Linked DNA regions of Homo sapiens. The protein of the gene in region 1 purifies or fractionates together with the protein of each later gene. This does not show direct contact. Each region holds a gene or a part of one and is shown on either strand. Other genes may lie near its edges.

What was found. Proteins that work in one complex are often made in the same cells at the same time.
Region 2: the proteins of PROK2 (region 1) and TMOD1 purify together in Homo sapiens (affinity purification with mass spectrometry; one large-scale study listed by BioGRID and IntAct). This does not show direct contact.

What each region holds. Positions count from the first base shown.
Region 1 is NC_000003.12:71,782,349-71,786,601, reverse strand, and holds the start of PROK2 (prokineticin-2 isoform a precursor), read left to right. Parts: upstream 1-1,453; 5' UTR 1,454-1,549; coding exon 1,550-1,645; intron 1,646-4,253.
Region 2 is NC_000009.12:97,564,166-97,567,665, reverse strand, and holds part of TMOD1 (tropomodulin-1), read right to left. Parts: coding exon 3,498-3,500; intron 1,819-3,497; coding exon 1,711-1,818; intron 1-1,710. UniProt on the Homo sapiens protein: Blocks the elongation and depolymerization of the actin filaments at the pointed end. The Tmod/TM complex contributes to the formation of the short actin protofilament, which in turn defines the geometry of the membrane skeleton.

The sequences.
Region 1 (4,253 bases):
CATGAGAACACGTGTGAAAAAGGTTTTTAAAAATCAGCCAAAGATTGGGGTTTCCAAATATTCAGCTGTTTAACATTCAGATAATTGCCTGCCTTCCCCCCGCTATCCCCCACATTTCGTCTGAATGCTTTGGCACGGGGGAGCCCCACAGTCTGAAAGTAACTCTGTCCCAACTCTCCTTACTGCATTTATTAAAGAGGCTGAAAGACGCATCTGCTTTTCAATAGTTTGCGGTTCTTAAGAGACCAGGAAAGCCAGAGGTTCTGACTATTCAGGAAGAAAGTTGGGTTTCCCAAAACGGGCAAGCAAGTTCGGTGTGGTCACATCTAGGTATTCTTGACGTCATTTTTGTTGAGGGAAACAGGCTGCAGTTTTTGGAGCCAGGCTAGGATGAGAGATGGAGGGCAAATCTGTCACTTATTCTTTCCTGGTGTGCCTGGAACCCACTAGACACTCAATTCATGTTTACGTGAATGAAGGAATCACAATAACGCCCTATCGCATCTGTAAAACCGAAGGGTGATTTTCCTGGGCTGGAAAGTTTAAGAAAGAAGAGAGAGCTGCGTACCTAGGGCTTAAGGGGCCTCAGGCTGGCACTCGAAACCAGGCGTTCTCATTTCCCTTTGGCATCACCCTGAACGGCTGTGCCTGGAGCTGGCGCGGGGCTGAAGAGGGGAGGAAATACATGTGAGGAAAATCAGAGGAGAGGGTCGGGAACAGATGTGGGCATAAAGGGAAGGCCTCTGACTTGAAATAAACAAATAGGAGTCCCGCAGCTGGAAGGACAAATCCTTTCACGTCGCGGGTGATGTGGGATTGGGGCGATTTTGCTCTCCCTTTGTTCTTTCCCCTGCCTTCCACGTTTCCAGGGTATTTGATTGATGTCTGTCTTCTCTGTTAAGTTATTCCACCGTGAGGAGAGAGCCGGTGGCAGTACCTGGCACGCAGCGGGCGCCCAGTATAGACCTGCTGAACAAACGAATGGATTCAGGGGCTGCTGTGTCCCCCTCACCCACCCCCCGCCCCCTATGTGTCCACAGCGCCCCGCACGTAGTAGGCGACCCCTAAACATCTGTACAGCAAATGATTTGCAAGTTTTCGGCGCTGAGCACGTGGAGCTTTGGAAACCAGGACAGCAAATGAGTGTCTCGGAGACCACAAAAGCGGTTCCGGCGCGTGCGAAAGGCGGTGGCTGGGCGACGGCGGAGGGAACGGCGCAGAGCGGGGCGCCCCGCCGGGAGCGCTGCCTGCGTGGCGCCCGAGGCGGGGGCGCGGGGGGCCGCGCATAGCACGTGCTCGTCTGGGAGCCGGCCGGGCCGAGGCGGGCGCGCGTGTGCGCGTGGGGCGTGGGGTGTGTGCCCGCGCCGTGCCCCCCGCGTGTGCTGCCGGGCGGGCGCCGGCGTGAGTCACGGCGGGGCTAGCCTTTATAACGGCCCGGAGGCTCGCGGGAGCCGCCGCGCCCGTCCGCCCGCCGCTCCGCGCTCCACCCAGCGCACCCGGGCCCCGCGCCCCCAACTGCCTCCGGCGGCCGCCCAGTCCCGAGGGCGCCATGAGGAGCCTGTGCTGCGCCCCACTCCTGCTCCTCTTGCTGCTGCCGCCGCTGCTGCTCACGCCCCGCGCTGGGGACGCCGCCGTGATCACCGGGGTAAGCGGCCCGGGCGCACCTGTCTGCCCCTGATGCGCGCCTGGGATGTGCCCAGGGGGCTTGGGACGGGGACCCTGAAGGGCAGGCTAGAGGCAAAGGGAGGGTCGCCCTGGGCGGGGACACCTGCCCCTGTCGCCCCTTGGTGCACTTGGGAAAATACCCAGATCCAAAAGCAGCAGACGGCTGGGGACACTGGGCGCGTCCTGGAAGAAACAGTGACAAGGATGTCGCCCACCACCTTTATTACCACCTTCTCCCGCTTACTTCTCCCTCATCACCCACGGCCTCACTCCTCGCATTTTTCTTCTGTTAGGCTGAAAGAAGTTTCTCTCTGAGTCTTCTCAAGTACTTTTGGAGGCTCTCCAACCTCGAACCTTAAAATTTGACGGCCCCTTCCTGAAATGCAAAGGACCAAGACGAATTCCCCAAGTGCCCAGAGTCTTAATCCTACAGTCAAAGAGTTTGCTCCCCGATGCGTCCTCCGCAGAAACCCTTTGAAATCGCTTGGTCCAGGGCCATGTGAGCGCTTTGAAAAGCAATTGTGGGAGCTTCCTTCTGGGTTCCGGGGCTTTCCCCCGCGCTCAGGGTCTTGAGGTATCCCCATAAAAGTTTTAAATTTCTAATTCCTGGCAAAGCACCTCCAGTGCTCCAGCATAATGATGGAGTAGGTTGCTGTGTAGATGTTTAAACTTAGAGACGATGTTTTCATCTTTTCTGTAAGTAGGAACTAGTTCAGTTCTCTCCCACTCTCAACAATTTTGTGTGGATCTGAAAAAATTGGGTTTGCAGTACAATACTAAATAGTCTAGTTTACATTAACAAGGCAAAACTGCTATCATTTCCTGGTTGTTCAACTTCTTTACTGTTTTTTAAGTGAGGAATTATTTCACACCTTCATTAAATTACTTCAAATATTTAAGTGCACATAATGGGATTTAAATAAAACGTCTATGTTTGAAATGTTGATACATAGATAATATCATTTGACTTTAAAGGAAGTATCTTTGTCTTGAAAAAATCAAGCTCTATTTTCTCTATATTAGTTATTAGGTTTATAGAATTTTGAAAGTCCTTTTGCTATGACAGCATTTGTATATATCCAACAGATATTTAACTGTAAGCTCTGTGATATTTATTAGAAAAGAGATTTTTTCAAAAAATTACTTGCATAGCTTTGCCAGTCCATGTGGTTGAGAAAAACTTTTTGCAGGTCTTTCTAATACATGAGAATTGAAACATGATTGGATTTTTTTCTCCCTCTTCTCCTGCTGGCTCATTTAAAGTTTCTCCTAATCCTCTGAGCCCAAGATCCCTTTGCAATATAAGTATCTTTTTGTTCCATTCACAGGACAACACTATCTGAATAGATTTGCAATGGGTTAAGGATGAAGGGCATTAGGAAACAGCTGTCTAATTAAAAATATATAAACCTATGCAACTCTTTGTAAATTTTCCAAGAACTGAAGCTTTTGTTACAAAATAAAATTTTATCACATTGGCTGTCTATCTGTTAGAGAGGCTTAGACTGGGCTTATTATATAGTTATGTGTGCTGTTTTTGTTGTTGTTATTTTAACTCAGTGTTACAAAAAGAGAATTTTAAAAATGTCTCTAAAGCAACAGGGCAATAAAATGTAGTTATGTCTCCATGACAGGAACCATCTGGATTCAAATGAAAAACTCAGTAACTTATCAAGATACATTGTGTATAGCATGTTAAACATCCAGGTGATTGAATTTTAAAAGATTTTGGCTGGATTTTTGATTGGTTCATAAAAAAAAGCTCATGGGGCCTCAAAATTCGAGGTATTGAGCATCTGTTGAAATAAAATGCTGGCTAAAACTTTCACCTGACATCCACAGTTTTTTGGGTAGTGTATGTAGGTATTTTGAAATTGATTTATATGCCCACATAGATTTGTTAAAACTATATTGTAAAAGATCATTGACTAGACATCTTATTTATGGGATGTAATGGCTACATATACATGATTTCTGGCATGCAGATAAAAATTGGAAAATTGAAACATTTACATATTGTCCTATAAAATCCAAACACCTCAAGGTGAAATTTTTAGCTTTTATCCAGATACTTTGTTTAAATAGACTGAGAAATAAATTCTAATGAGGGAAGTAAATGAACTTTAAAGCAAAATAGTTGGTTACTTTTAATGAGAAATAATGTTAAGAATGTACCCATATTTTTATATCTTGAGAAGTTATGACTGTCCTCAAAACTAAGAATTTTGAAGGACTGTTTTAGTTGTTTCCACTAATTGTACATTTAAATTTGTGCCTAGATGATAGAGGTTTTAGTTTCTTACATATATAGTACAGGATGTTTTTATCTTATCACTACCAAAACAGATTACTGCCCACGGTTCAAACAAAGCATTCTATTTTTTGTTGGTTCTAGGAAAGAATAATAGTTCTTCAGATCCATTTTCATGCAAATAGATTTAGATTTTATTATTTATTTCTATTTACTAGAGTATGGAAATTCCTCCATAGTTGATTGTTTCATTGTATGTATTTACAACTTTTATATTGAAAGCAGGTGACTTGAGTAATTACTATTGACAATTGCACCTGTTACTTGCATTTCTTAA
Region 2 (3,500 bases), on another chromosome or scaffold:
CTGTGTCTTCCACCAGAACCTTCCTGCTCCCAGGAAAGGCCTGGCCTGGCTTAATCAAATCTAATAAAAAAAATCAAAATAACAACCAGTAGGCAACCTGCTAGGCTGATCCAACTGGACATGCTGGTGGCTGAGCAGGTCCTGGAGGCCCTGTCTTGCCAGGTGTTAACTCCTTGTATGCTGGGTCCCAGTGGAGGAACCGGGGCCAGGAGAAAAGCTAGGGCAGGCGGTGGGGGCCCTGACAGAGCTCTGGCAGCCTGATTTACCAACTGGCCCAGAAGCATCTCAGTGTTTGACACGGGCATACTGGTGTGCATAGGCTGATATCAGCTGTTGGTCTGGCAGAGTCCATGCCCAAAAAACATTTGTGGACCTGAGCTGAGGGCCAGAATGGATGTGCTTGGTTTCTGACCCATGACATAGTAGCATACAGGGCATGTGGCTTTGCCAGCTGTGTTCCTATGGGCAAGGAACCATGGAGATCTGAGGTCAGAGGTCATCAATCCAGAGGTTCCCCACTGACAGCAATGAGAGACTGTGAGCTATTTCTATTATTTCAAAAATATGAAAGAACACTGTCTTACCTATTTTAAGAATCAGAAAAAAATCGATTGCTACTAAATGGTTAATTACTAGCCCTGATAAACTAGCTTCTGCCCTTCTTGCAGGAATCTAGCTTTGCAGTAATTGCACTGTACTGTTACCCTTTAGTTGTCTGCTTGGCCAAATGGACCAGAATCTTTATGAAAGTGGAAGCTGAGACTGGTCACAATTGTATTCCCAGAACCTAATTCAGCGTTGGGCACAGAGAGACTCTCAATACATATGTGCTGGATGTTTAAAAAGAAGAGTTGATGGCTACTTCAGAGTAAGTACAATTTAATTTGATCAGAAATATCTTTTGAGACTTATAAAATAAAATTGGTCATTGGGACCTGCTGATGAAACCATCATTTTTATTTTTTTAAATTTTTATTTATTTATTTATTTATTTTGTGATGGAGCCTCGCTCTGTCGCCCAAGCTGGAGTATAGTGGTGCAATCTCGGCTCACTACAACCTCCGCCTCCTGGGCTCAAGTGCTTCTCCTGCTTCAGCCTCCCGAGTAGCTGGGATTACAGGCATGCACCACCAAGCCCAGGTAATTTTTATACTTTTAGTAGAGACGGGGTTTCACCATGTTGGCCAGGCTGGTCTCGAACTTCTGACCTCAAGTGATCCACCCGTCTTGACCTCCCAAAGTGCTGGAATTGCAGGTGTGAGCCACTGCGCCCAACCAAAACCATTGATTTTAGAGATGGAAAAACTGAGGAACAGGGAAGGGCAGGCTCTTGTTCTAATATGATGTGCCGAGTGAAGATTTAGGGGTCACGTGACTGCACTGGACTTGCAGGTCCACCTCTCACTTGCTGTGTGACTGGACAAAACAAGTTGCCTGACCTCTCCGAACCCTAGATTTTTTAAGTGCAAAGTGGGGAGAACTGCACATCTGAGACCAGAAGTGGGTGTGAGGATTGGCCAGGATGACGTGTAGGTGGTGCCAGGTGATGGCTGTTCCCTCTACACCCCTCATGGCTCCTGGTCCAATGCCTTCCACTGTACCACATAGAGCTCTTTGTTAGTGGGATACAACCAGTCCTGAGGCCACATATTTCAACCCTTCTGTTTCAAGGCCCCCAGCCACAATGCAACAGAACAGAAAGGTACATACATACGCCACGGGGTCATTACTCCGTGTCCCCACGATGCTGAACTTCTTCACATATGAGTTTTCTTTCAGGGCTTCTGCATATGCCTTGAGGGTGGGGATGGGGATATTCTGCACAAAGAAAGGCAACAGAGAGAGTGACCAGAAGCCTCCTCTGGGACAGGCTGAGGCAGGTGGATTAGCCTGGCTACTCTCTGATTCCTGGCAAGTCTCTGGCCAAAAAGCTGAATGGGCAAAAGGTTTAGGCTTTGTCCCGGACGACTGAAATCTGGGGAGAACTTTCTGGTAAACAGATTTAGAAAATCCTCCCTGAAAATTTCAGATAAGACCTGTAACCTCTTTCTTTGTGCACTTGGGGGCCAGAGAAGAGGCAAAAATTAAGGCGTGTAGTATTGTGCAAAGAGCTAGGACTAGGGGTGTGAGAGGGGCTGGAACCTGGCCTTGGTCCCAATGATCGGCAATGTTCCTGACTTGCTAGGTGTCTCTGTGGAAGCCTCCTGCCCTCTCTGGCCCTGTTTCTGGAAAACAGGTAAGGGGGTTGCATATGATACTCTTTAAGAGACATCTACCCCAGGGGGTCTCTGCTCCAGCGGCACATCAGAGACTCCTGGGGAACTTTTACAAAATGGTGATGCTTGGGCCGGCCCAGAACAATAGAATCAGAATCTCTAGGGTCAGGCCTGGGCGTTGGTATATATTTTTTAATCTTCTCAGGTGAAAACCACTGATCTGGTCCAACAGGCTCACAGTGCAGAGGAGAAACTGAGGCCCAGAGGAGGCTGGGGCCTCACAGGGAGATTCCATCCCTCATGTGGCCCTGAGGCAGCATTCACTGCCAGTGGGCAGCATTCTGAATTGTGCCAATGTCTCCTACTGGGCACATGAAAGAAAACATGGCTGTGTTTTTACCAATCTCTCAGAGCGTCACTTTAGCTCCCATGGGAGCAGAGCATGGGGAGGCCAGGTGGGGGTGAACACTAGGGTGCAGGTTTCCAATCTGATGGTGCCGTGGGGCTGGCAGCTGCTTAAAATAAAGTGGAGAAGGAAAGAAAGTGGAGCAGGGGCATGGGGGGCTGGCTTCTAGTCTTACCCCCACCCCCCTCCCAGAACTAATCCACTGGTCTCTGGGCTCAGCAGGTGGGTAGAAAGCTGCATTTGTCTCTGAATTCTTCCTGCGGCGGCCTGTTCAGGGTGAGACTGCCTGTCCACCTGTCCCTCCCCTGCCCCGGGATCACATAAGGAAATGTGCACAGAGAAAAGGGCAGACAGCTTGGGATATCGCTTTGGACATTTTGGCCAACAGCTCCCTTCTGTGGCTGTAAAACAAGGCTGAATATGAACGTGATATAGCAGCAGCGATGGCACAGGGGAGGGGCCTGCCCAGGGCCTGTGTTACCCCCGAGCCTAGTGGGCACCGGACTTTTCCAGCCTTGAGATCCCATGCAGCAGCGTGTGTCTGACTCATGATTTTATCTCGGAGAATCTCTCAGTGTTTTGAATAACGTGGCAGGTTTCCAGATCAAAGCTGGGTTGGCCCGTGCTAAACATCTGGGCCTGATATCATCCTCAGAAAGAAACCAGGACTGCCAGATGCACTTGTTTACACTGCCCACCCCTCTTAAAGGCTCCCATTTGCAAAGGTTTTGTCCCTATTCCCAATGCAGAAACACCCAGAATCCAAACAGGACCCTGTTTACTCTGCACAACCAACCCTGGACCGTTTGCATTTGGGTGACATGGTTCCCCCTCCCCCAGCCACACACAGGTAAAGTGAAATAAATGGACCTTACCCG